Homo sapiens: one gene and its partner. The protein of the gene in region 1 purifies or fractionates together with the protein of each later gene. This does not show direct contact. Each region holds a gene or a part of one and is shown on either strand. Other genes may lie near its edges. The genes, in order: SLC26A4 and FNDC3A.

What was found.
Region 2: the proteins of SLC26A4 (region 1) and FNDC3A purify together in Homo sapiens (affinity purification with mass spectrometry; 2 studies listed by BioGRID and IntAct, with this or other methods). This does not show direct contact.

Annotation. Positions count from the first base shown.
Region 1 is NC_000007.14:107,698,571-107,709,298, forward strand, and holds part of SLC26A4 (pendrin), read left to right. Parts: intron 1-1,512; coding exon 1,513-1,605; intron 1,606-2,530; coding exon 2,531-2,626; intron 2,627-3,256; coding exon 3,257-3,487; intron 3,488-5,760; coding exon 5,761-5,815; intron 5,816-10,728. UniProt on the Homo sapiens protein: Sodium-independent transporter of chloride and iodide. Mediates electroneutral chloride-bicarbonate, chloride-iodide and chloride-formate exchange with 1:1 stoichiometry. Mediates electroneutral iodide-bicarbonate exchange.
Region 2 is NC_000013.11:48,977,704-48,995,415, forward strand, and holds part of FNDC3A (fibronectin type-III domain-containing protein 3A), read left to right. Parts: intron 1-17,712. UniProt on the Homo sapiens protein: Mediates spermatid-Sertoli adhesion during spermatogenesis.

The DNA of each region.
Region 1 (10,728 bases):
CCTCCCAAAGAGTTGGGATTACAGGCGTGAGCCACTGCACCTGGCTAGCTGAATGTCATTTTAATATAAAACTGTTGTAAGAGGAATTTAAAAATAATAGGCAATTTCTAGATGTTCATCCAAAATTTTGTTTATCTGGTATATAATTCTTATCTTCTGTAAGATTTTCTTTATTCAGTTCTAACAAGAGATTATCAAGTTCTCTATGACCAAGACCTTATTATTTGACACTTTGCTTTATCCTTGGTATTAGAAGAAATAAAATATGACACAGGAAATGAAAAACAAAGAAATTAAACATCCCATTGATGGACTTGTGTCACCTGCAAATAAAATTGCTTAGTGGTGACTAGGGGAAACAAAGATAAAAAAGCAGAGAAAGTAAATCAAGAAAATACAAATTTAGCAAATAATAATAATAATAATATCAACCCTAGGAAGTTGTAGTCTAATTTTACCTTAACATTAAAAAAAGTTGGACCTTGAAACTGGGATTTCAGTAGCTGCTACTTAATTTATTTCCGTGATCTTTCTGTTATGTTGAGCCAAGTGCCATTAAGAGCTAAAATGATTTAGAGATTTTTTTGGCTTTGGGGAGGGAGCTCTAAGCTGAGTTAGGGAATTCTGACTTCTAGGCTCCATCTTGGTGAGACTTTGCCCAAGTCATTCAGCCTCTCAGGACCTCAGTTTTCTCATCTGAAGCAGCTAGACTAAAATTGCTGATTCCTGAAGACTAGAAAAGTCTATGATTCTGTGATTCCTGGGTTCTATTTTGGGTGTGGCCATTGTATGTCAGGGTGAGAACAGATGATATCATAGGCCTCAGTTCTGCAAATCCCATTGATTTTGCTTTTTTTCTTTGCTACTTTTAAAGAATGTTAGCAAAATCAGGAGGGTCAGTGGTATGAACTTCAGGCAAATCATGGCACTGTTCTAAGCCTCAGTTTCTTTTCTGGAAATCAGAGGGTTGAATAAATTGCTTTCTAAGGCCCTTTCTAACTTTGACCTTCTATGAGACTGTAGAGGTCCAAGAGTTTTTGTAACCTGTTGTCTCCCTATTCAAGAAAAGTTGTAGAGGCCGGGCACGGTGGTTCACACCTGTAATCCCAGCACTTTGGGAGGCTGAGGCGGGTGAATCACTTGAGGTCAGGAGTTTGAGACCAACCTGGCCAATGTGGCAAAACTCTGTCTCTACTAAAAATGGAAAAATTAGCTGGGTGTGGTGGCAGCACCTGTAATCCCAACTACTTGGGAGGCTGAGGCAGGAGAATCCCTTGAACCCAGGAGGTGGAGGTTGCAGTGAGCCGACATTGTGCCACTGTACTCCAGCCTGCGCAACAGAGTGAAACTCCATCTCAAAAAAAAAAAAAAAAGAAAAGAAAGAAAAGTTGAGTGCTGCTACCCAGCTCCTCTGAGCAACTGTGACTTGACTCCTTGCTAAGTAGCCAGAAATGTAATTAAATACTTGAGGCTTGAAATTATTTAATCCCAGACAATTTCTTTTAATGCCAGATTGAAGAACCTCAAGGAGTGAAGATTCTTAGATTTTCCAGTCCTATTTTCTATGGCAATGTCGATGGTTTTAAAAAATGTATCAAGTCCACAGTAAGTATTTTATCCCTAGAAATTTGTTTTCTAACCTCTTTTGAGACTTCATTCATTCTACAAGTATTTACTGGGGTCCAATCAGGAATAGGCCCTAGACCCTCTTCCCTTTGTGTAGGGCAATGAGAATTAAAATATAACATCCTTGCCTTCAAATAATTTACAGTCTATTTGGGGATTAAAAAAACACATATGTTAAAACCCAGGTAGTAATAACTATGCCAGACAAAAACATTAGAGATGTTTCTAGGCAGAATTTGAGTAAGTTTCAAATAAGTAGTATAGACAGTTGAGAGTTCATAGAAGGAAGAGATCCAGGTTAGTTGGACTAACAGGCTTTGTGCGGCAGTTGGCTGAAGGAAAGAAATCATGTCAAGTGTTTGAGAACTATGTGAGCTGAGAGACAGTGGAAACATGTATTGGAGGTAGGGTTGCCCAGTTGCAGCAAAAAGTAAAATATACTAGTGGAATAAATAAGTAGAAAATCCTGGCACCAAATGCCATGCTATGCTTTGAACTTGGAGTTTGCCTCTAAATCAGTGTTTTTCTAAGTGAGTTCCAGGGCAAACTGATTCAGAGGAATGTTCACAGATTTTGCAATAACAAAAGGGCTCTGTGATACCAAGGGAATTTGGAAAACCCAGACTTAAACTAAAGAGGGTATTTTGGGGTGTGTGTGTGTTTCTGTTTTGTCTTTTACTGTCTTGGAGCCTTTGATATGCTACTGTCTTCTCAGAGCTTCTGGGTAGGAGTAGGGTAGCCTGGGAGTAGACAGAGATCTACTCCATCAGACCTTACAATTTCTTTTTTGGCAGGATAGCTCAAGGAATTATACCCTTTGAGAAATAGCCTTTCCAGATAACAGTTGCCATTAATAAGCTTTAGGTGCCAGGCATTTTAAGTAACTTGACATTTATTTCCAAAGGTTGGATTTGATGCCATTAGAGTATATAATAAGAGGCTGAAAGCGCTGAGGAAAATACAGAAACTAATAAAAAGTGGACAATTAAGAGCAACAAAGGTGAGATGACATCTTTCTTTTCCCCCTTAAATTATTTCCTTTCCCTGATGAGAGCAGTTAGAGGGTCTAAAATTAAATCTATCCTCTTTAGTATCCAGATGTGAATGAACAAATGACATGTACGTATCAAAGAACAACTGAGCTATTCTTATAGGCAAGCGGGAGTGGAAGGGAATGAAATAAAATCAGCAGCGCTGCCTGGAAACACAGGATGTGATTTTTTTCCCCACCATGAACAGTGTCTGCATTATTTTCTATACTTTATTTTTACTGAAAGGAACAAAATAAGTGCAAATTCAATGCCAGAAAACTACCCACCATAGAAGGCAGTCTAAGTCCATAAACTTTTGGAGCTGTTAACTTTTACTCAGATTCTTCTGGCCAGTGTATTTCTTGGCAAAGTTCCACAATCATCCAGAAAACAAAAGTTTCCTGGCTCCTCTGTTCTCCCAGTTTTCTTCCTAGACAACATCAAAGTTTGGGCTGAGGTGAAACCCATCCTTAAAAATTCATCTCCTTGATGTCTTGCTTACCAAGGAACAGTGTGTAGGTCTTTTGGATAATTTGATATGAATGGTTGAAAGATTTCAAATCTTTGACAATTAAGTTGACAGTGTTTTCTTCGTTTAGAATGGCATCATAAGTGATGCTGTTTCAACAAATAATGCTTTTGAGCCTGATGAGGATATTGAAGATCTGGAGGAACTTGATATCCCAACCAAGGAAATAGAGATTCAAGTGGATTGGAACTCTGAGCTTCCAGTCAAAGTGAACGTTCCCAAAGTGCCAATCCATAGCCTTGTGCTTGACTGTGGAGCTATATCTTTCCTGGACGTTGTTGGAGTGAGATCACTGCGGGTGGTAAGGTTCTGGTTTTCTGAATTATACATTTGGAGCTTTGGCAATAGTAAAATGATGTGGGTTGTCCAGTATTGCAACAGGGCAAATACATGGGCTTTGTAATTTTTCTAGGTGAATGCTTTTGTAAAAAAGTGTAATATTTTAAAGCATAGGCTCTGGAGCCAGACTACCTGGGGGAGATACTGGCTTCACCACTTACTAGCAGTACGACCCTGGGCAAGTTGCTTAATCTGTCTATATCTCAGTTTCTTCATCTGTAATATGGAGGTAATGATGGTATCTACCTTCACAGGTTGTTACAAGGATTAAATAAGCTAATAGATATAAGGTGTTTAGAAGAGTGTCTGGTTCAGGCTGGGCATGGTGGCTCACGCCTGTAATCCCAGCACTTCGGGAGGCTGAGGCAGGTGGATCATGAGGTCAGGAGTTCAAGACCAGCCTGGCCAATATGGTGAAACCCCGTCTCTACCAAAAATACAAAAATTAGCTGGGCATGGTGGCGCACACCTGTAGTCCCAGCTCCTAGGAGGCTGTGGCAGGAGAATCGCTTGAACCCGGGAGGTGGAGGTTGCAGCTGAGATTGTGCCACTGTACTCCAGCCTGGGTGACAGAGTGAGACTTCATCTCAAAAAAAAAAAAAAAAAAGAATATCTGGTTCAAAGATACTCCCCAGCAAATTAATTCACATTTATTATGTTTTATCTTTCTGAGAATGTATAACAAGTGGTATATGAAAAGAAAAAAATGGGCAAAAGTTTATTAAGTATTACATTTCTATTTGTTATGTTAACAGCAACAGGATAAGGAATACCAGGTGTATGTTAGGACTGGAAAAGCCAGGCATTATTAAGAGGTTAGAGTAGGAAGCAGGTCAGACATCTGGAAGGTCAAAGCAAGAGTTGAGGAGTATGCAGGATAGAAACATTAATGATATCAGAAACCAGTTATGCAAGCTGAAGTTCATTAATTCTGTCAACAAATAGATGTGAAATGCCTAATGTGTACTGAGCACTCTGCCAGGCACAAGAGACTAGTGATGAAGTAGACACAGTTTCTACCTACGTGGGACTTAGCAGTCTGGAGGAGAAGGCAAACATTAAGTCATCTTATAAATAACAATTGTAGTAAGTGCTCCAAAGAAGATGAATAGGACATCACCTGAAGCATCAAGTTCAGTGAAGCTTCAGGTAGGTATCAAAAGGGTCAGGCAGAAAAGTAAGCAGGTCAAGACACCAACAATCAGATGTAATAATATAAAGCTGACTCCTAACTGAGGTTCCACTTAGCTAAGGCTTCTTTGCTACCTCTATAAGGGGAGGAAATGATTCCAGGATGTGGGTACTAGGTAGGTAGGGTAGAGAAGTGATTGTGCTTGGCAAAAGAGTATGAGAATATGCTGACAGGTTCTGTTCTAGTTCTCTTAGCAGATTTTGTTATTAGCTCATTTGAAATCACTCTTGTTCTTTGTTGTACATTTCACTCTAAGCATTGGCTGAGATCCATTGTAGACTATATTGGCCAGAGAGTTCAATGAATTACTTTTGGGGACAGTCTTAACATATTTAATGCCAGAATATTTCCCACACAACGAATATTTACTTTCAAATATTATAATGACAGTTATGATAGCTAAAGAAGACTCCAAACTTTATACTTGAACAGAGGTCTTGATTTGTTTTCCTCCATAATTCTCAAATTCTCTTTTATTATTGACTATGGGTCTTGTGTCTTGACTTTTTAAAATTAAATGTTTATTTTGACATAATTGTAAATTCACATGTAGTTGTAAGGAATAATATTTAGATCCTATATACCCCTTACCCAGTTTCTCCCAATGAGTAACATCTTGTAAAACTGTAGCATAAAATCACAGTAGGACACTGACATTCAAAATAGAGGCCTTGACTTTTAGGTCAATAGTAACATTTTGAACCCGATAAGCATAGCCACACCCATATCTCTTCTCCAATCAGCAGGGCCTATATTAAGAAGCCTCCTGTACTCTCTTCTTTCCACAAATGCTTATTTAGCACCTCCACGCTATCAAGTGCTGTGCTATTGAGCGCTGGATGTTGCCATCTCTTGAGATATAATCCTAATTATACCATTACTGTAGTTTGAAAACCTCCATGGTTTTGCAATAATAACCTTTCCTTAAAGTCCTGATTAACCATGAAAGTAATAATGTTTCTCCTGAGCAAGTAACTGAATGCTACTGAATTATGGGCAGATAAGGTTGTTAATTGTTACAAACTCTCCTTTTTTATTTTTAGATTGTCAAAGAATTCCAAAGAATTGATGTGAATGTGTATTTTGCATCACTTCAAGGTAAATACATATATCTACATATCTACCTGTAAGACTTTCCCGTAAGCCCTTTCTCCTATCTGGGACTGTGGTCACATTATGTCTGAAGGCCTTTTTTTTTTTTCTTTTAAAGATCTCAATTGTCATTATTTGCAGTTCTGGAATCTGGCACTGCTTCATTCCATAAAACAGAATAAGTGTTCCAAGGAACTAAGCAGGAGTTCAGTATTATACACAGAAAAGGCCAAAGACAGCAAAAGCAAGCAACAAAGAGTATATTAGTCCATTCAAAGTTACTTTCTTGTAAGTCAGAGACAGTGAGACAGAACAATAGGAAAATAATGGATTAGTTAACATGAGGTCATGTCAGGATACTTTTTTGTATGAGGATTATTGCAGAGGAAGCTTTATTATTATGCCAACTGGAAATTTAAACTGTCCTGTTTTAGGAAATTTGCTATTACCTCTCTCTCCTGATTTCTTCAAGTATCAGATAACAATTTAGTTTAGGTTTGATAACTTGAAACTTTAGCATGAGTGACTCCATTTTGATTTTTAGTCTTGTCTGTTGTCGTCTAGTGCGGGAGCTTAGTCTAAAACAATGGCCTTTTATTTTTATTTTTTATTTTACTATGTGCCTGTGCCTTGCATGACCCCAGGATGGGCACAGCTGCTTGGCCCCTGAGCCACCGAAGGCTGCTCTACTCCTTCGTTCTGGCTACTAAAAGCTGCAAAGCTCTGGGAGGGCAAAGCTCAAGAAGACTAAAACAATGGCCTTTACCATTTTTGTTTGATGATTTTCCCCGTTTTGATCAGGCTCTCACCTAGGTAAGAGTGAACAAAATGTAGGAGATCAGTGCTACTCTGTTACCATCATTTTGGGTTTCTGGTCTCAGGAGGTCATGTGTAGCTTATGGTGCCCTCCTCATTATCATGTATGTCTCTGAGTTTTTGTTGTTTCAGAGAGAGACCATTCGATGTCTGACAGGTGGCTTTTTGGAAACATTTAAAACTTTGAGAGGGTATAATGTACCAGGAAGACTGCTATTATGACTATCAGGGAGATAATACCAAGGGTTTATAGTATGCTCCTTAGCCAGGATTCTCATGAATCAAACCAACTAAAATTGAATAGCCTGACAAGGAGACTACCTGTTTTAACCAAGAAGTCTTCTCTGTAGTACCTGATGTATTTATATATGTGGAACAAGAAGTGTCACCCAACTGCACAGATGCTTCCTTGTTGAGTTAGCAGGTAATCTAGCATTCCATGACTGGTTAAATTAAAGCAGAAAGTGTAAGTTACCCAAAGAAGCTACTCATTGTGAAGTTTTAACTACAGCACTATCCTGCCAAGTGAAAGAGGTAGGCACAAGTAAGGGAAAATTAAAAGGGATAAGCATCTTATGATAGGGAGTCTTGTTCTGACAGTCTTGGAGCTGTCTACAGCATGAAGTTGACAACTTCTTGTTTTGGTTTGTAGTTTTATTGTCTCTAGTTGTGGCATCCAGCATTCTGGCGAACTCTCTATGTGGCCCACAGTTTAAGCATGAGATTCATCTCTTGAAATTTACACTGAGTTGCTCAGCTTCAGCTTACAGAGCTTCAGGAACTGAGTAGTTCTTGGTCTTCATTGGAGTGTTGTAGCCAGATATTAGTGAAAGCTAAAAGAATTAAGAATCCAGCTCAGTCTACAGGTAGATAATAAAAACTCATAAATATTGAACAGGGCTACAGTCTAAGAACAGTTTTACTATGCTTTTCTTTTGAACCATATGTTTTTCTTTCTATAGTCACCTCCATTTCTATCAAAGACGATCATGGTAGACCAATTTGTTTACAAAATAAGTTTGGTCTCAAACTTGGCCTGATTGATTATTTACACAGTACAGCAAGAATAACTACATAGGTGACTCCTTTCAAATTTGCTTTGCCAAGCCTGGCGAGGTATTGCTTGCCTGTGAGCCCAGCTACTTGGGAGGCTGAGGTGAGAGGATTGCTTGAGCCCAGGAATTCAAGGCTGCAGTGCACTATGATTGTGCCTGTGAATAGCCACTGCACTATAGCCTGGACAACACAGTGAGACCATGTCTCCAAAAAATAATTGCTTTGATAGAAATTTTGACAAGGAATCTCAGATTGGACTTTTTAAAACGTCTTGATGCTATGAAGTCAAACCAAGGCAGACATTAGGCTTTGCCTGATGTATCTAATATCTTGAAGTTACTGGGCCTCCCAGGAAGGAACGACTTTTTATTCACTCATTGTAAGGCTAGCAGCCCTTGAAGCCAGGAATTCTGTGCACATTTTCAAATATGATATTCTATTCAAAGCCTTGATAATATAACCAATGTTTTCCAATTGTATTCTATTTAAAAGAACAGATTCTATTGAACTTTCATGTAAATAATCATATTGCCATAAAAATAAGAATACTCACAAAGAGTTTCCAAATTCTGGAAGGATCAGGTAGAGAGGAAAAGCAAATGTTTCAATTTTTGTTTATGAAAGTATGCTTAACAAGGCTGGGTGCGGTGGCTCACATCTGTAATCCCAGCACTTTGGGAAGCCAAGGCGGACAATTGCTTTGAGCTCAGAGTTTGAGACCAGCCTGGCAACATGGCAAAACGCCGTTACTACAAAAAATACAAAAAATTAGCTGGGCATGGAGCCTGAGGCTGAGAATCACTTGAGCTGGGGAAGTGGAGGTAGCAGTGAGCCCAGATGGTGCCACTGCACTCCAACCTGGGTGACAGAGTGAGACCCTGTCTCAAAAAATAAAAAAAAAGTATGCTTAACCAAGTGGCTGTAAACTGCAGATAGCTTTAAAGAAAAATTTTCTTTAGATCTGGAAAACAAATATTAAAAGAACCAGCAATGTTTCAAATAAAAAAGCCATAAAACCTGTAATTCTTCTCCATCAGTTCATTCAGTCTCATGTAATTAATTCTTGCTCTGTTTGATCTTGGCTGGTAGTTTAATTCCAACGAATGGTATGAATTCAAAGTTATTAGAAACCTGTATTTGTCAGAGTTCTTTTCATTCTTCCCATATAACTCTTTGAAGTCACAGCACTTTAGAATTATAATGGCTTACAAAGAGCTTTCAGAAAAAGTATCAGAACAAAACAATTAACTGTGGACAACAAGACTTAAAGTGGCTATATTTAAAGATCTGATGTGAGTTACCCAATTGACAAGGATATTTGGATATTTCTGTGGCACACAACAATTTAAAATAACCAAAATTATGACTGGTAGCATTTATACCAAGACCTATCACATTTCTAGGAATGTTATATAATTTTGGAACATATTAATAACATATCTATAAAAATATAGCACAAAGAAAGTTAAACATCATTTCTTATTTTAACAGTGCTTCCCATATAATTTAACCTATCAGATAAGGCCATTTGGTTTAACATCTCTCTTTTACAGATTCTTTAAGAAATTCCAGGGTCCTCTGGAACATCCCAAAGTTAGTTCAAGGTCAAAAAGACTTAATTTTGATTTTTGAGAAGTTTGTCAAATACCAAAGGTTTAAAACATTTGATCAAAATCGGATCATAGGTCACTATGAAATAAAACCAAAGTGAAAAAAGAGTTCAAAGGCAAAAAGCACAAGAAGAGTTATATTGATGAAACATGAAATCTCTGTTTTCTAGGCCAGTTACCTGGAAGAGAAAATCCTCTCACAATTTTCTATTAAGAGTAAACCAATCCTCTGAGAAAACTCTATTGTTCCAACACATAGGCCCACACTTTAGCCTTCCATCAGTGTACTTTAATATTAATGCTCAATTTTTAGAAAAACTTATAAATAATTCCCTTCTACTTTTAGCCAACTCAATCACATAAAATTTTTCATGATATTTATCTTCTACAAACCTTCTACAACTTGCTTAAACCTTCATTTGGTCCTATACTTCCTTTTTTAAAATTGGCATTGTACCTTAGGACAAAGATTTACTTTTCTTTTCTCCTTATCATTTTGACCATATAAGGTTATCTCCTATACAAAAGAAAAAATTACTCTCTTTTCAATTTTCTTTATCTCTTCATACTTGTAAATTTCTTCTCACATCTTTCCTACCTAGTGGTTCCTTCCTGCCTTGTTTTGATTTCCTTCATAAGTCCATATTTAGAAACAACCTTTAAATAACCTCTGATTGCCAAGCTAGAGTTAAGTTTTAAATAAATAAATAGGCCGGTCATGGCGGCTCACATCTGTAATCCCAGCACTTTGGGAGGCAAAGGTCAGAGGATCACTTCAGGCCAGGAGTTTGAGACCAGCCTGAGCAACATGGTGAGACCCCGTCTCTATTATTTTTTTTTTAAAAAACAAAAAGCATAAAAACTCTGAGAACATTTTGAACCCAGAAAGATATTACTTCCAATTTGTGCCACAGAGCTGGTAATGTATGGAAATGTGTATCTTGACAGTGGGTGGGGGTGGGGTGAATATTGACAATGGGGGGATGTTGTTATGAGGAGAGCAAAGCTGGAGATTACTTAGATTCCTTAGAACAGGAGGACTCTCAAGGGTGTGAGTCTCTGTGTGTTTCTTTATGAATGTATGTGTGTAGGAAAGTGCTAAGGCTTAGGTTGAATTCTTTAGCAGCAGAGCCCAAGATGGGGATTCTTGCACAAGCGATTTATTGAGAATACATCTGAGGAAATTTATGAAGCAGTGAGGGGAGCAGGATAGGGAAGGGGAAGAAGCTGATCAAAGACATGGTTTCTGAAGTCCAGCGTAGATCCCTGATTTCACAGGGAGCACCACCACAGGAAGAGTACCAGAAGGTTATGCCTCCTTGAGGCAAGAGGACCTGCTTTCTCCCCCAGTAATGAGTCAGTCAGTGGCTGCAGGCCAGCCATGTGTGGGGATGAAACCTCCCAGTTCTCTTTATTTACTTATTTATTTGAGACAGG
Region 2 (17,712 bases), on another chromosome or scaffold:
ACTAATCTTGCTTTCTAATCACACCAGTTAGTGGGAAGAAGGGATGATGACAGGAGAAACATCTTGTTAAAATTTTAATATTAAATCTTATATTTAAATTTTTTAGCACTACTACATTAAATTTTACTATATTGTCTTGTTTCATTTCATAGATCATCTGTTAGTTTTCTATGTGTAGGTTAACTGGAAAATTTTTTATCCCAGGCTGGCTACCGTTAGCCACCTGTATGCTTCTGAATTAACTCCCTCTTTTTCCCTTTTGTCTGAATCCTCCAAATCATTGAATGCTCCGGAAAAATAAAATCCTGGTTAACACTGTCAAGCATAGTTATAAGGGTAATTAATTTATCCCAAATTAATAATAAGCATTAAAAAAAACATTCTAGGATTATCTTCTTTTGGTGACGTCTGTGTCTTCACTTCCTCTATCTGTGTGAGTAATTGAGACCTGATTTATTTTAACACACATGTAATGATTACTCTTTACTAGTCACATTTCTACAATATAATAGTAAGCATATTTTATTACTAATTTAAAAATTTCTCCCTCTTCCCTGACCAGCCAGACATAGCTAAGGGCTGAGACATCCTTAACCCCCCGAAAAAAAGAGGGAATGCATGATTCATATTCTCATTGTCTTTTGTAGTTTTAGGCAAAGAGCATTTAATTTATACTTTATCAATTTTTAGTAATATTTGCGCTGTTTTAAAACATTTGCATTTTTTAAGATGTTCATGACATCCAAGGCTTGTGTATTTTATAATCTGCCAGTATTTTTAAAATACAATTTGATGAAGTAACCAAAAACGTTTTTTTTTTGAAACATTGTTGGTGCATTTTTGAATGAAAATGAATCTAGATCGTGTCTTTGAGAATGGTGTAGGGATATGCACATGATTTCCAATTTTATTAGCCAGATAACTAAGTGATTAGTGTTTCTGGTTTTTTTTTGTTTGCTTTTGTTTTTTTTGTTTTGTTTTTAGCATTGCCTAGCGGACTTCAAATAAACTCACAATATTGTAATTCCGAAGGTTTAGAATATGGTGCATATTTATTCCATTGAGCCTTTTACTGCTTCAGTTTATCACATTGCAAAACAAGAAATATGGCTCCCATATGTGTGAATGTCAAAAACTACTTGTTAAAACGAAATTAGTGGCCATTAATGTTGAAAGGCAAATTTTGTACTTTTACATGTATTGTGAGCTTTTATAATTTTCTTAATATTTTGGTCTTATTTCAGATAATTATTCAGTGGTCTCTTTTTATATCTTTATTCTTACCTTTCTGTCTTCCCACTGTTGTGGTTTTGCTTGTCTTTAATATATACTTTCAAGTTTTCTGTGTAACCTGTGGTCTTCCATCAAGTTCCTTTGTGGGTGTCATCTTTCAATGTTTCCAATCACTTATCACCCATTACCAGTCCTTGGGCTATTTTTTCCTCCAAGATTGAGAACTACACCTGGGAGATGTCATGTGCTTGCAGGGTGATGCAATGTTATTAAAGTGGGGATACAAACATAGTGTGATGTCTTCCTTCCTTCAAGTAGTTTACAAATTAGTTGGGGGTACTAGACTAATAGTATCATTAGCAAAAATTATAATATGGTATTATTAAGTTGTGTGACACCAACTGGAATTTAAAGGGAAGTGAAGCCAGTGAGAGCTAGAACAATCCTGGAAGGCATTTGGAGGGAGTCAGAGGAAACTTAGAAATGATTTAGATAACAAAAGGAAAGGCATTCCAAAAGAGATTCACAGGCAGAGTTGGAAGTAGTAGTAGAATAAGTAGTCCAAGAGCATCCAAGGACAGAAATTGGGACGAAGAAAGAAAGAAAGTTAGGTCGAGATGTTAGCTTAAGCACCAGGGCATCAGAAGAGGAAAATAGGCAGAGCTGGACAAGACAGTTTGTATCATTAGGAACCTATCACTGAAAGAACTATACCTCAGCTTTGACATATTAATAGCTTAAGCTTTATGTATAATGGATAGCTTATATGTGTTTGTTTGTATGGCTTAGGTCAGGGGTCGGCCAACTTTTTGTGTAGAGTGCTAGATAATTAAATATTTTAGGTTTTGCAGGCCATTTACAGTCTCGGTTGAATGTTCTTGTTTGTTTGTTAGTTTTTTATAATCTTTTAAAAACGTAAAAATTTTTACATTGTTGTCTCAAGAGCCAAACAAAAACAAGCCATCTGTGGACTGGATTTGGCCAGGGGACCTAGTTTGCTGACTGCTAGGTAATAATTGGCAAAGTAATTGTCCATATAGCACATACTGTGAAATTTCTTGCATCATCTTGTCTATATGGTGGTTTGGGCGTTTTATGACTATCATGTATATATTTTTCCTTATGTTATCCTAAAAAAAAAGTATGTAGAAATAAGTGCTTCTGTAATTGTTATTTTGTGGCCAGACTTCTAACAAGAGCCTAGAATAGGTCTCAGAATTAGGAAGTGAAAGACGAAAAGCCTTTGAGTCAGGCCTTACTACAGTGAAAATAGCTACACAGTGGCTTGATTTAGAATTTGTATAAGGTTAGGTGTATCAACTGCCTGTGCTGGTTTTACATTTTTAAAAACAGCTGGCAGGTTAAAAACCTTGTCTAGGATGCTGGTGGTCTGTAAGTGACAACAGAGGAGCAGGCAGTAGGGATCTTTGTTTTTAGAAGTAGTCTAGGATGAGTTAATAAAGGGACAAGCAGTTGGACATTCTGCAGTACTCCAGAAAGAATCACTCTGTTATGGAACAGTCTAATAATTGATATTTACATTGATGAGCTTGAGTCATCAAGAAAAGATTATATCATGTGCACATTAAGGCACGGAAGAAAGACCTAGAGATCTCTTTACAAATAATTAAGATTTTTTTAAGATAAGTTATGGTGATTTAAAGGATATAAGTATCAGCTGTTTTGAAAAGTAATTTACATGAAACATCTCTGAAGTTTCTAAATTTATAGATATCTATTTCTAAGGCAGTTCTGTTTCCTTCAGTATACTGTGGTTCATGTGCCATTACCAGGTGAATAGTGATGCCTCACGCTGTGGCTGCACAAATCAATTGGCTGGGGCAACTGTATTTTTTGTGGCATCAAGAGAGCAAGAATACATCATGAGAGCATTTTTTCATTAAGCAGGCATCAGTACATTCCATATATCAGGGTTAGTATTAGGTGCTGGAAAAAGTACAGATGTATAAGATGGGAAGCAACCTGGACAGAATCAGTGATGCTTCTTTCTTCCTGTTAAAAACATTAAAACCAACCAAACAAAATCATGAAACTTAACTTTTGTACTTTAATTTATTATTAGCATTTTTCATACTTAGTACATACAGTACCGTAATTTTAAGGCAATATAAAGCTTTTGATTTAAATAACAGCCTTCATAAATTGCTACTTAATACAATTTTTACTTTTTAAATTTTAGTTTAAGGAGAAATTCATGCCCTCCCTCTTTTTTTGTGAATGCTTGAAACAGCTTCACCATGCCAGCTGTTTCCATTTGCTAAACAAGAGGTAAATTAAAGTACCTTGGATGGTGACTCAAAAGTCTAGTTCTTAGTTCTAACTTCACCACTTATTACCTATATGATTTTGGGTTAGTTTCTTGCAATCTTGGTTTTCTAAGCATTAAAATAGAGAATAATATCTATCCTGTTTTCCTCAAAGATATTGTGAGAACCCACAGAGATGTTGGAAACTATAAAAGCATTAAAATACATACCATAAAAGTGCTTACATTAATGCTACTATATTGGAAGCAATGCAGCCTTTTTTTTTTTTTAAGACCAGAGTTCAAGCTTTATCCTCCAAAGTTCTGTAAACATAGTATGTTTCCAGTAAACATTCAGTTGAGCTCATTGAATTTTAGAACCTATACTTGCTTATTTTTAAAATCCTATACAAACCTGCCAGATATGTGGTGGTATTCTCATTTTACAGATGAACTATACTTCTGATTGACTTCCATATCTCTTTCTCCTTCACTTCTTGAGATCTCTTATGTGCTAGTTGCTAGAAATACAAAGTGCAATGTATACTTTGAAGTAAGCCTTGGTGTAAAAGTTACCTAAGTTTGGTAAATTAGATTGTGTATGTTAATCAGCCTCTATCAGAAATGCTGGGGGAAAAAAAAGTGTTGTATCTGTTTTCTTTCCTCAGAATCCATATTTTAATATATATTTGAACTTTTAAAAACTTAAATGATTTCGCTTCACTACTTCTTCAGTGAGGGATTACTTTAATTGGTTTATGTATATTCTAAACCGACAGACACATAATTTGGGAGGCAAAAAAATCTTACTTCTCTAGGGGTTCTAAACAGATATTTAAGTACACTTTAAATCACAGTTTAGACTTTTATTAGAAAGTAATTACGTGCTTTGCTTTATAGAAGTATATGCCATATACAGCAACTACTTTTGTTGAGCCATAACTTGAAGGATTAGTCATTTCATTTACTTTAAAATCAGTTTTTCTTAAGATTTGCTTAAATAAAAAGTGAAAATTCATAATTTGCGATTTTATGTTTAAATTTTCTAAATTTTTTTTGTTTTCTTAAGACAGACATTCTCAATTATGTCTTTGTTCTTATGACTTGATTTTTTTCCATGTAATATTTTCATTTGTAATATATACCTAAAAAAAATTTTTAGCATAGTACCTTCATAGTTTATGAAGTACCTTTTTGTTTCTTTAGTAACTATTAGGATCAGCTTTTCCTGATGCTTCAGATTGGTATTCCTGAAATAGTATGTTCGCATTTTTGTTTTAATCACTTGAACCTTACTAAAACTGGCCTAGTGTGTGTGACAGAGTAGCCTTTGGGTAAAATGTAGGGGCTACTGCCCCTCTAACCATCTTTTAGGCTGCTTCCAGGATATTTAAAAAACATGAATTTATTCAGATCATTCCCCAGTTTTAGAAATCGAAATCACAATACAATTCCTGCTGCATTAATTATAATTTCCTTTGTCTTTGAGAGTCCATACTCTGTTGATATCCTATTGTGTCATCATTTCTTACCTCTTTACAACTTTGTGATATAGTGTAGAGAACATATTTCTCATTAGGCAGCCACAGGATTGTTAGTTGACTTCTCATACTGGCTGTATAGAAACATGAGTGTGCTACTTTACCTGTATGAGCCTTGGTTCGTTCATTTTACAGTGTAGTAATAATAGTAGCTATCTCCTAATATAGACTGTACAAGAATTAAAAGATCCTATTTAACATGACAAGTAAAATGCTTGCCATAGGATATTTATATCTAGAACTTTGACAGACATACCTAATCATTGTCACTCAGGCATCCTGCATATCATTCATTTATTCATTTGCCTATCATTTGTTGAACATTTAAAATGTCCTAGATACTTAGAATATGAATGTTGAATGTCACAAAAATGAATGTCACACTCCCTCCCCTTTAGAAATTTACAGAATGGGATGAGAGATAATGATATGTAAATAAATACATATTTTTAAATAATTAAAATATCTTGTGTCTTTTCACTTGTGTGAGTCCTTCCTGTCTTTTAATATTTAAATGCAAAATGTTTCCATAATACCCACAGAATATCTGGGTTGTATATATCATACTGTAATGTATATATATTTTTTACTTGTCTAAATCAGCTATTCAACTATGAACTCCTTGAGTTTGACCAGTACTACTGGAGTCAGCAACTTTTTTAATATAAGAGAAGGTAGTAAATATTTTAGGCATTGTGGACCATATGGGCTCAGTTGCAACTACTTAAACTGTGCTACAGGAGCACAAAAACAGCCATAGATAAATTATAAACAATGGGCATGACTGTGTTCCTATTAAACTTCATTTACGAAACTAGGCAGCAGACCAGATTTGGCCCACAGGCTTTAGTTTGCCAACCTCTGCAATGGTGCATGCATATACTTTTATTTGTGCTTGACAAATAAAAGGCACTTAGTAAATAATATGATTAATAGGCATTAAACACTTTCTGTATTCTGGGTGCTATTGCAAAAAACTTTATATGTATCAGTTTACTTAAGCCTTAAAACATCTCTCTGCGGTAGATACTATTATCACCAAATGTCATAGAGTAATAATAGAAGCACTTTCATTAATAGATAGGAACACAACATTGGTTCAAAAGTCTTAGGCAATACATTAAGAACAAGAAAAATAATTAACCTGTAAATAAAGGGGGGAAATGTATCACTATTATTTAGAGTTGATATGACTGCTTACAAATACAAATAAATATAATACAAATACAAATAGCAAAAAAATATGAGATAACAGAAAAAGATTTGTATTAAAAAATTTCAGTAAGCTGATTGGCTATAAGATAAAGTTAGAAAATTCATTAGCCTTCTTATATATCAACAATAACCAACTATGAAATACAGTAATAAGAAGTAGCAGCCTAAACTATAAAATACTTAAGATTTTAAAATGTGTAATAGCTATGTGAAGAAAACTGCAAAAAGATGTGAATGGATGGAGGAGTATTCATGAATGTGTCAACTTAATGCCATAAAAATGACAGCTTTTACTAAATTATTCTATAAAGTCAATGCAGTTCTAATCAGAAATTCAACAGGAGTTTTAAAATGGAATTTGACAAACTGATGGTTCAAGTTTTGAGAAGGGAGCATGCACAAGAATGGCCAAGTAAATTTCAAAAAGAAGTATAATAAATGGGACCCATCAAAGGTCGAAACATTATAAAATTACAATTATTAAAATAAGAATTTGGAGTAGGAATAGGCATATTGATCAAAGGAATAGAATAATAAATTCAGGAGAAGATCCATAGATAAACATGGATAAAGAAGAATTGTATGATAAATGAATGAGTAATGGAAGAACTGGTCTATAAAGGGTGTGGGACAATCAACTGTTTAATTGAAGTAAAGATAGTTAGGTACCCACTTCGTGACACTCTCAAAACTAAGTTCCAGGTGGACTAAATGGTTTTTTATTTTTATTTATTTATTTATTTTTGAGATGGAGTCTCGCTCTGTCACCAGGCTGGAGTGCAGTGGCGTGATCTCGGCTCACTGCAACCTCCGCCTCCCAGGTTCAAGCGATTCTCCTGCCTCAGCCTCCCAAGTAGCTGGGATTACAGGTGCCCACCACCACGCCCAGCTAATTTTTGTATTTTTAGTAGAGACGGGGTTTCACCATGTTGTCCAGATGGTCTCGATCTCTTGAGCTTGTGATCTGCTCGCCTCAGCCTCCCAGAGTGCTGTGATTACAGGCGTGAGCCACTGTGCCCAGCCCCGAGTGGACTAAATGTTGATAAATAAAAAATAAAATGACAAAACTTTTAAAAGTTAATTTAAAAACTCGTTGGAGTAGAGAAGGCCTTTTAAGTGAGACATCAAACTTAGATGCCATTTAAAAAGGAAGGCAAGCAATAGACTGGGATAAAATATTCGACATGTAATAGACAAAATTAATATTCAAGGTATATAAGGTGTACCTACAAATCAATATGAAAAAGATAACCTGATAGAAAATGGGAAAGAATGTAAGCAGGAAATTTATAGAGGTAGAAATATAGGTAGCCTGTTAAGTTTTGAAGGAATACTATTGAACCGAATATAAATAGCTTCATCTTTTTAGGAGAAAAGTTTGGCAGTATCTATCCATTTCAAATGTACGTTCTCCTGAGCCAGAAGTTTTATTTCTATATGTCTGTAATATAGAAATGCTATCATTCATTAATAGAGAGTATTGCATGATTATTCCATGCAGAGGAGAAAATGTATGATGGGAAACTGGAAGTAATAAGATCATCATTAGAACAGTTAAATTATGGTGTGCCCTTACACTATAATATTAGATACTTATGAAAAAACATGAAATAGACATAGATGTACTTCTTAAGATATTTTACATGAAAGGGCGAGATACAATATAATACATACACAAAGACACAATTCATACACACACAAAAAAAATACAATACACAAAAGCAGTGTATGTGATTTCACTTACATAACAACCAATCCCAGAAAACCTAACACACAGGTAAGCACAGAGAAAAAGACTGGAAGGGTACACCACAGTTGTTAGCTATAGAAATAGGAGTTGGATTAGGGATCAGGAAAGAGTTAAAAACAATGTTTGTATGTGTATTTTCAAGTATAAGCAAGTACAGCCTTTGTGATATAACAAACATAACAACACATGCAAGGCTTTGTTATGATTGGTCCTGATTAGGACCATTCCTCCTGGGTGGACAGCTTTGATTTATGTCGGTTTTCCCTGCGTAATTTTTAATAGCACTTCCTTTCACTTGCAGAAGCTTCCCAGTTGGTGTCTGAAGTCATTGGTGTTTTTAGAAATAGCAATTTCTGTATAGTGTTGGATCTGAAACTGTGTTAAAGTGGGTTAAAGAAGTGAGAATTCTACCAGTGATTCTTAACCTCTATAACTACAACTGCCAACCAAGACAAAATAAAGTGCTTTTTATTTTCAGAGTTTCTGTTATAAAAACACTTTGCTTTTTTAAATATAAAGTTATAATTTCGAATGTAGTTTTTTTAAAGTCCCATATGTCTGGATATTTTGATCCTCCCCTTTAATATTAAAACCTAATATTTCAAGACAGTTAATGATAGAGGTCAAGAGAGGAATCAGAAGCTTAAGAGGAAGACAGAGTAAGGAGAAGGAAGTTGTTTTTTTTTTTTTTTTTTTTTTTTTTTTGAGGCGGAGTCTTGCTCTGTCGCCCAGGCTGGAGTGCAATGGCGTGATCTCGGCTCACTGCAACCTCCGCCTCCCAGGTTCAAGAGATTCTCCTGCCTCAGCCTCCTGAGTAGCTGGGACCAGAAGCACGTGCCACCACACCCGGCTAATTTTTTGTATTTTTTAGTGGAAACGGGGTTTCACCATGTTGGTCAGACTGGTCTCAAACTCATGACCTCATGATCCGCCCACCTCAGTCTCCCAAAGTGCTGGGATTACAGGCGTGAGCCACTGCGCCTGGCCCGGAAGGTTTTTTTAAAAAGAAGTTGAAGGAAGATGAGTATGATTAGAGGCAATCTTTAACCAAGGCATAGTTGTAGATTTATAAACAAAGAATCTGGTCATCTCAGAAAGGACTACTTTAAGGACTACTGGATTCTGCAGACAAATCTACTTATAGGAAATAAAGAAATGTTACTTGATTTTATTATGATAAAATTATTTTGGAGGAATTAGTGAAGGAAACATGTTAATATGGTTAAGTTATAGTAATACAGTAGCTTTTACACAGGAACTCAAACTTTCTGTTGTGAATTTAGTTACCAATGTATTACTGTGGCCAGAAAATATTCAGAAACTACAGGTTTAATCTTCAGTCCAAAAATCACACCAATGGATTTGAAGTTCTACAAGAGCAAAGTTAACAATCTATAATATAAAAACTAAAGTTTTATATAATACTTCTAAAAAGGACAGTAAAATATTTGGAAGTGAAAATAGGATTGTCCCAGGTGTAGTTGCCTTTTGGCTCTAAAGGGTAGCCTATGTGCTCCAAAGACACTAGACAGCTAGAGCTATATGTGGAACTTAAGAAGATGTTACTTGAAAGAAAAACTGATCTATGTGCACACTATCAGTCCTTTAATGGACTGGGGTTCGTTTCTTGGAAGCAGTTCTTTCTCTCTTGTTTCCATAGTTTCCTGACTGGAAGTATCTTTTTGATCAAGATTTCCTTTGAAGTCTATTTTAACAGGATTTTCATGTTAGTATTAAGGTATAATTTCTTAGTGGGAGAATGGGGGCTGTATCTCCTAAATGTCTAATTAAATTTAAATTTAGTATATCTGACTAAGAAGGGTGAGGATGGTGGCTTGAATGCCCTCTTCCCTTTTAAACCTTTCTTCACTTAAGGGACATGAAAGAGTGAGGCTTATCCATCCGACCAACACTACTCTTTCCTTCTTTCCAGTGGATGTGGGATTGGAGAAGAATAAGATAAATAAGTTACAGTAAATTTGTTGCTAACAATCTGTGTAAATTATTGATTTCTTTGTAAGTGTATGAACACTTTCATTAGGTTAAATTGTTGATATTTTAAAGTTTTTGACCTCAGTGGCAGTTTCATATGGTTTGACCTATTGCATTATGAAACTATGGCTATAATCACTGCCCTGTATATAAAAATGTTATGGCACTTAAACAAAAATACATTATAACTTATTTAAATAGCATAAATTTGTGCGTGCTTTGGCAGCACATATACTAAAATTGGAACGATGCAGAGAAGATTAGCATGGCCCCTGTGCAAGGATGACACACAAATTCATGAAGCGTTCTGTATTTTTCAGACTCTAAACCAACAAAGATAAAAAAAGACAAAGAAGGGCATTACATAATAGTAAAGGGCTGAATGCAACAAGAAGAGCTAACTCTCATAAATATGTATGTGCCCAATACAGGAGCACCCAGATTTATAAAGCAAGTTTTTAGAGACCTACAAAGAAGCTTAGACTCCCACACAGTAATAGTGGGAGACTTTTAACACCCCACTGTCAGTATTAGATCAACGAGACAGGAAATTAACAAGGATATTAAGGACTTGAACTCAGCTCTGGATCAAGTGGACTTAACAGACATCTACAGAACTCTCCACCCCAAAGCATAAATTCATAAACAGTACATCACTGATGAAATGTCAACATCCAAGCCAAATTGGAATGTTCATGAATACACCTACTTTAGCAACAGGTAAAGCCAAAAATATTGTTACTGCAGATATGTATCATTATACATTAAAGGGTTAAACAACCTTCTCCAGAATCTAAATTGCATATGAGAATGATAAAAGCCATAATATAGTAATTTATAATTTAAAAGCTTGTAGTATGGCCAGGTGCTTGGCTCACACTTAATAGTCCCAGGACTTTGGGAGGCTGAGGTGGGAGGATTGCTTGATATAAGGAGTTTGAGACCAGCCTGAGCAACATAGCAAGACCTTGTTTTTACTAAATAATAAGTAAATAAGTAAGTAAGCCAGGCATGGTGGCACATGCCTGTAGTTCCAGCTACTTTGGAGGCTGAGGTGGGAGAATTGCTTAAGCCCAGGAGCCTGCAGTGGGCCATGATTGTGCCACTGCACTCCAGCCTGGGTGAGAGAGTGAGAACTTGTCTCAAAAAAAAAAAAAAAGATAAGAAAAAGCTTATAGTAATTTATAAGTTAAAGCTATCAGACATGAAAACCTTAAGTGTTCAGCAAAGTATGGATAAACATATACATTTAAGGAAACTACACAGGGCTGGAGAAAGAGCCAACTAAAAAGATTGTATATAGAACAGTATCCAAGCTCACACAGGGCCAGAAGAAGTGCCTGTTTCCACTAGCTAGAACAGAAAGCCTCATAATTCACAAGGCATTCAGTAGAGTACTCTGGAGGGTTTTGCATTAGTAGTGGGGAAAAATTAATTACATATTAAATGCAGCTCTGTTCTTGCCTAATCCATCGTAAAAGCAAGTCCCAAAGAGTCAAACTTTGTCCGAGTCCCTTAGCCACATGTTATAACAAATCTCCAGATTATTTATGGAAATACAAAAATATCCAACAGCCAACAAGATAAAGTTAACAGTATCTTACATGCAGTTCAAATTACTGAGTCTGCAAAGAAGCAGGAAAATACAAACCATATTGAGAAAAATTAATCACTTGAAATTGGCCTTCAAATGATACTGATGATGATAGTCATTAAAACAGTTATGACTGTTGGAGAAGCTAACAAAAAGATTGAACATGTTAAATAGAGATACTGTCTGATTAAAATTACGTGTCAAAGACATACTACATTAATGGCATGTTAGACTTTGTCAAAGAAAAGATAAGTGTACATGAAGATACAGCAATAGAAACTATCCAAAATGAAGCACAGAAGAAAATAGAATTTGGAGACAATAACTGAAAAAGTATTTGAAGAAATAATGGCTATTTTCCAAAATAGATATAAACTATAAACCAATAAGCACAATAAGCATAAGAAAGATGAATAAAACTCTGCTAAAACACATCATAATCAAATCACTTAAAGATAACTTTTTTTTTTTTTTTTGAGACAAAGTCTCGCTCTTTTGCCAGGCTAGAGTGCAGTGGCACAATCTTGGCTCACTGTAACCTTCGCCTCCCAGGTTCAAGCGATTCTCCTGCTTCAGCCTCCCGAGTAGCTGGGATTACAGGTGCATGCCACCATGCCCAGCTAATTTTTGTATTTTTAGTAGAGATGGAGTTTCACCATGTTGGCCAGGATGGTCTCCATCTCTTGACCTCGTGATCCGCCCACCTTCGCCTCCCAAAGTGCTGGGATTATAGGCGTGAACCACCGTGCCTGGCCCATAAAGGAAATCTTAAAAGCAGCCAAAGAAAAACAGAACAAAGATAAGGGTGACATCAGATCTGTCATTAGAAGCAATGTAAGCTAGAAGACAATGAAGCAATATCTTTAAAACATTTTTTTGCAAAAACTGTCAACCTGGGACTTTTTACCCAAACTGTCTTTCAAAATAAAGGCAAAATAAAGATTTCAAATATACAAAAGCTGAAATAATTTATCACTTTCATTTATGAACTAAAAGACATGTTAAATAGAGTCCTTCAAGCAGAAGGAAAATTAAACCACATGGAAACTTGGCCACAAGGAGTTTAGAGTACTGGAAGTGGTAACTATCTGGGCAAATATATAGGATTTAAAAAAAATTATTATTTGAATATCTTTAAAAGACAAATGACTGTTTAATATAAAAATGATGACAGTTGCCAGGTGTGGTGGCTCGTGCCTGTAATCCCAGCACTTTCGGAGGCCAAGGCAGGCAGATTGCTTCAGCCCAGGAGTTTGAGACCAGCCTGGGCAACATGGTGAAATCCTGTCTCTCCAAAAAAAAAAAAAAAAAAAAAAAATTAGCCAGGCATGGTGGTGCATGCTTGTAGTCACAGCCGCTCGGAAGGCTAAGTTGGGAGGATCGCTTGAACCCAGGAGGCGGAGATTGCAGTGAGCTGAGATCACACCACTGCATTCTAGCCTGGGCAATAGAGACCCTGCCCTCCCCTAAAAAATGACAACATGAGGTTTAAAACATGTAAAAGTAAAATATACAATAATAGCAAAAATCCCAGAGAAATTGCAGATTTATTGTTGTAAGGTTCTGATACATATTCCTGAAGTAGTGTATTACTTGAAGGTATACAGTAATAAGTAAAACATGTGTATTGTAAATTTTAAAGAAACCACTCAAGTAACAAAGAGTTGTAGCCTATAAATCAACAAGAGAGAGGGGATGGTATAATAGGAAATAATTCAAAATGAAGCAGATGAAGAGGGAAAAGGGGACAAAGAACATTTGAAACAAATAGCAAGATGGTGATGTAAATCCAGTCGTATCAACAATCACATTACATATAAATGGCCTAAACACCACAATTAAAAGTCAGGGATTGTTGGATACAATTTTTTAAAATTAAGACCCAAATATTTCACATCTACAAGAAATCCACTTTAAGTGAGTTAAAAGGATGGAAAAAGATATGCCATGCTTACACTATCCAAAAGAAAACTGAAATCAGTAAGTTAAACCAGAAGTTAGGTTACAGAACAAAGAATTCTTACCAGAGATAAAGAGGATTATTTCATACTAGTAAAGGGATTAATTAAGAGGGCATGCAATTATAAATATGCATCTAGTATAGGAACTGGCCTGGGGGCAGTGGCTCATGTTTGTAATCCCAGCTCTTTGGGAGGCTGAGGGGGTTGAATCAGTTGAGTCCAGGAGTTCGAGACCAGCCTGGGCAATGTGGTGAAACTACGTCTCTACAAAAAAATACAAAAATTAGCTGGGTGTGGTGGCACACGCCTGTAGACCCAGCTACTAGGAAGGCTGAGGTGGGAGGATTGCTTGAACCTGGGAGGTTGAGGCTGCAGTGAGCTATGCTCACACCACTGCACTCCAGCCTGAGTGACACAGCAAAACCCTGTCTCAAAAAAAAGAAAAAAGGAAAAAAAAAAGAGAGAGAATGTTTCTGAATATATGCTGGAACTGCAAAGAGAAATACAGATGCTCTTTAATTCATGATGAGGTTATGTCTCAATAAACCCACCTGGTTAAAATATGTCAGAAATGAGTTTAATTCACCTAACCTACTGAACATCGTAGCTTAGCCTAGCCTATCTTAAATGTGCTCACAACACTTACATTATCATATGGTTGATGAACAAAATCATCTAACACAAAGCCTATTTTATAATAAAGTGTTGAATGTCTCGTGTAATTTATCGAATACTGAAAAGTGGAAAACCGAATGCTTGTATGGATACTTGATGTATGGTTTCTACTAAATGTGTATCTCTTTTGCTCCATCATAAAGTCCAAAAATTGTAAGTTGAACCATCACAAGTTGGGGATTGTCTGTATACAAATAATGCAATTTTAGCAGAGATTTCAATACCCCTCTCAATGGAAAGTAGAAAGAATGTAAAGCCTAAAACTATGAAATTTCTTAAAACAGGAGAAAATCTCTGTGACCTTGCATTAGGTGATTTCTTAAGTATAGCATTGAAAGCACCATTCATAAAATGACAAATCGATAAATTGTACTTTATCATAATTTAAAACTTCAAAAGACATTGGTAAGAGAATATAAAAACAAGCCACAGACTGGGAGAAAAATATTTGTAAATCACTTATCTGGTAAAGGACTGCTATCTAGAATATATAAAGCACTATCAAAACTAAATAATAAGAAAACAGTCTAGTAACTAAATGGACAAAATAATCCAACAAATAGTCAACCAAAAATATACCTGGATGGCAGATAAGCACATGAAAACAACATCATTGTTCATGGAAATGCAAAGTCTCCAGTTTACAAATGGTTAGTAGGAAAATTTGAGAGATGACGGGTAAGTTCATTATCTTGATTATGGTAACAGTTTCACAGGTGTATTTATGTGTCAAAATTTATCAAATTGTACACTTTTAAACATGTGCAATTTGATATATGTCAGTTATACCTCAGTAAAGCTATTTCAAAAATCAAGAGTAGTTGACACATTGTATTAGGTTGGTGCGAAAGTAACTGGTTTTTGCCATTGCTTTCAATTAAAAGTACCATTTGTACCATTAAAAGTAATGGCAAAAACCACAATTACTTTTGCACCAACCAAGTAGTTATAACAACTACTTGATGCGTGTTTGTTTAATACATTTAACTCATTACTCTGCCATTTCCCAGGAGTATTTGAAAGTTTCAACTTTGTTTAATCTACAGGAAATAGCAACTTCAATCTAAGGATAGTATATCATACTCTCCTAGTATATTGATTTGACCATAATATCCAAAGGCAATTAAAAATTCTTCATTAAACTTGATTCCTCTACGAATACTTTCTTATCCTTAGATCAGTATTTTTATCTGTTTCTCGTTGAAGGATAATGTATTCACATCTGGGATGAGGCTTTCCAGAATGAGGTATACACCTTACATTGTTATCAACTTTACATCCTTATTATCAGTTAGTACTTAATGTAAAAACTTACTTAGTCTTAGAGTTGTATGGCCCAGAGACTAGCAGCATCAGCCTAACCTGGGAACTTATTAGAGATGTGATTTACTGGGCCCCACCACACACCTGTTGAGTCAGAAACTCTGTATGTGTGGCCCAGGAATCTGTTTTAATAATCCCTGCAGGTCATTCTGATACATACCAGGATTTGAAAGCTGTGATCTTAGAGCAACAATAGGACTTTAGATTCTTAGATACTTATAGTAGTTTCATTTTTAAAAATCTCATATGATAGCACACTTAAGATTTGTACATTTCTGGTAAAAGGAATTTGACAAAAAAATTTTTAATGAAGATGTGTACATTTTACCATACATGAACTTTTTTTTAAGGAACTAAAAATTTTGAATGCTAGTAACACATGCAAAAGTGTTTAGGGGTGAAGTATACTGATGTCTGCTGCTTTGAAGTGCATTTAAAAAAGATCGCTAGAGGAATACATGCAATTAAATCCTGTCAATTTTAGAACCTAGGTGGCAAGTATATGGGTGTTTGCTGTTCAGTTATTTCAGCTTTTCTGTGGGTTAAAAAAATCCTCATAATATAAAATCCTTCCATGACTCCTTTTTAAATTTTTGATCAAGAGAGTGAAATGTGCCCAGAATGTGCTCTTAGGCAAAATAATGGTAGATAGTAATGAAGTTTTAGTATCTTAACAGCAATTATGAATAAAGATATAGAAAACTGTGTTTCACTAGAATGATATTACATTTGTTAATCTTAGAAATTGACTATTTGAGATTTTTCTAATCAAATTAAAATGGAAAGTGTAATCTTGCTAATGTTCTTTAAATTACCTCTATTGATTGTCTCTTCATATATCCAGATGAAAAGATCATCAGCTATATATGATCTAGTTAAAGTCACTTTTAAGGACTGATATAAATTATTGATTTTTTCAAAAATAAAAAAGTAGACCAATGTGGTCTTCAGAAATAAAAAAAATTACTTGCTTTTAAAACATTATTAAAGGCTTGACAGTCAAATGGATGGTACTTAGATTAAAAGAGGTTTTTAAAGACATGGCAAATAGTAGTGTGCACATCTGATACAAATCCTGATTCAAACAAGTTTTAATAAAAACAAGACAATGCAAAATTTGAACACTGACTACATATTTGATGATTTAAGGAATTATTGAAGTGTATGTATGGTAATGGTTTTGTAATTATGTTTTAAAAAGGAGTTCCTGTCTTTCAGAGATACATACTGAAATATTTGCTGTGGTTGAGCGCAGTGGCTCACGCCTGTAATGCCTGCACTTTGGGAGGCCGACGCGGGCAGATCACAAGGTCAGGAGTTTGAGACCAAGCCTGGCCAACATGGTGAAACCCCATCTCTACTAAAAATGCAAAAATTAGCTGGGCGTGGTGGCGCATGCCTGTAATCCCAGCTACTCCGGAGGCTGAGGCAGGAGAATTGCTTGAACCTGGGAAGCGGGGGTTGCAGTGAGCCGAGATGTGCCACTGCTCTCCAGCCTGGGTGACAGAGCAAGACTCCATCTCAAAAAAAAAAAAAGAAATATTTGCAAATGAAGTTTTGGAATGTCTTAGATGTGTTTCATAATACTGCAAGACAGGAAGTGGGGTATAGATGAAACTAGACTGGTCATGAGTTGAAGCTGGGTAATGAGTACATGGGGTTCATTATACTATTATGTTTACATTGGTGTATGTTTGAAGTTTTCCACAATAAAAGGTTTTAAGAAAGATGTAGGTTAAATTTAACTCTTACATCATGATCTGAGAATGAAATCATCACTTATTGTGGTGTTTCAGTGAGAAAATATTTTCCAATTATATCTGACTTTAAAACAACTAATAATAATATTAATAAGGTCTCTATGTTGCCCAGGCTGGTCTCAAACTCCTGGACTCAGGTGGTCCTCCTGCTTCAGCTTCTTAAAGTGCTGAGATTACAGTCGTGAGCCACTGTAAGAGTGAAAGGCCTTTTTATTTATTTCTTTTTTAATATTTTCAGATATATCTGACTTCTAACAAAATACTGTAAGGGAGCCTATTTCTTGATTGAGGACTGCCTTTTTTTTTTTTCTTTTAGCATAACAATCTTAGTTGTAGCCTTTTTGTGTACCAAATCTTGTACTGTTTTATACTTCCAGTATCCAAAGATATGAAAAAAGTGAG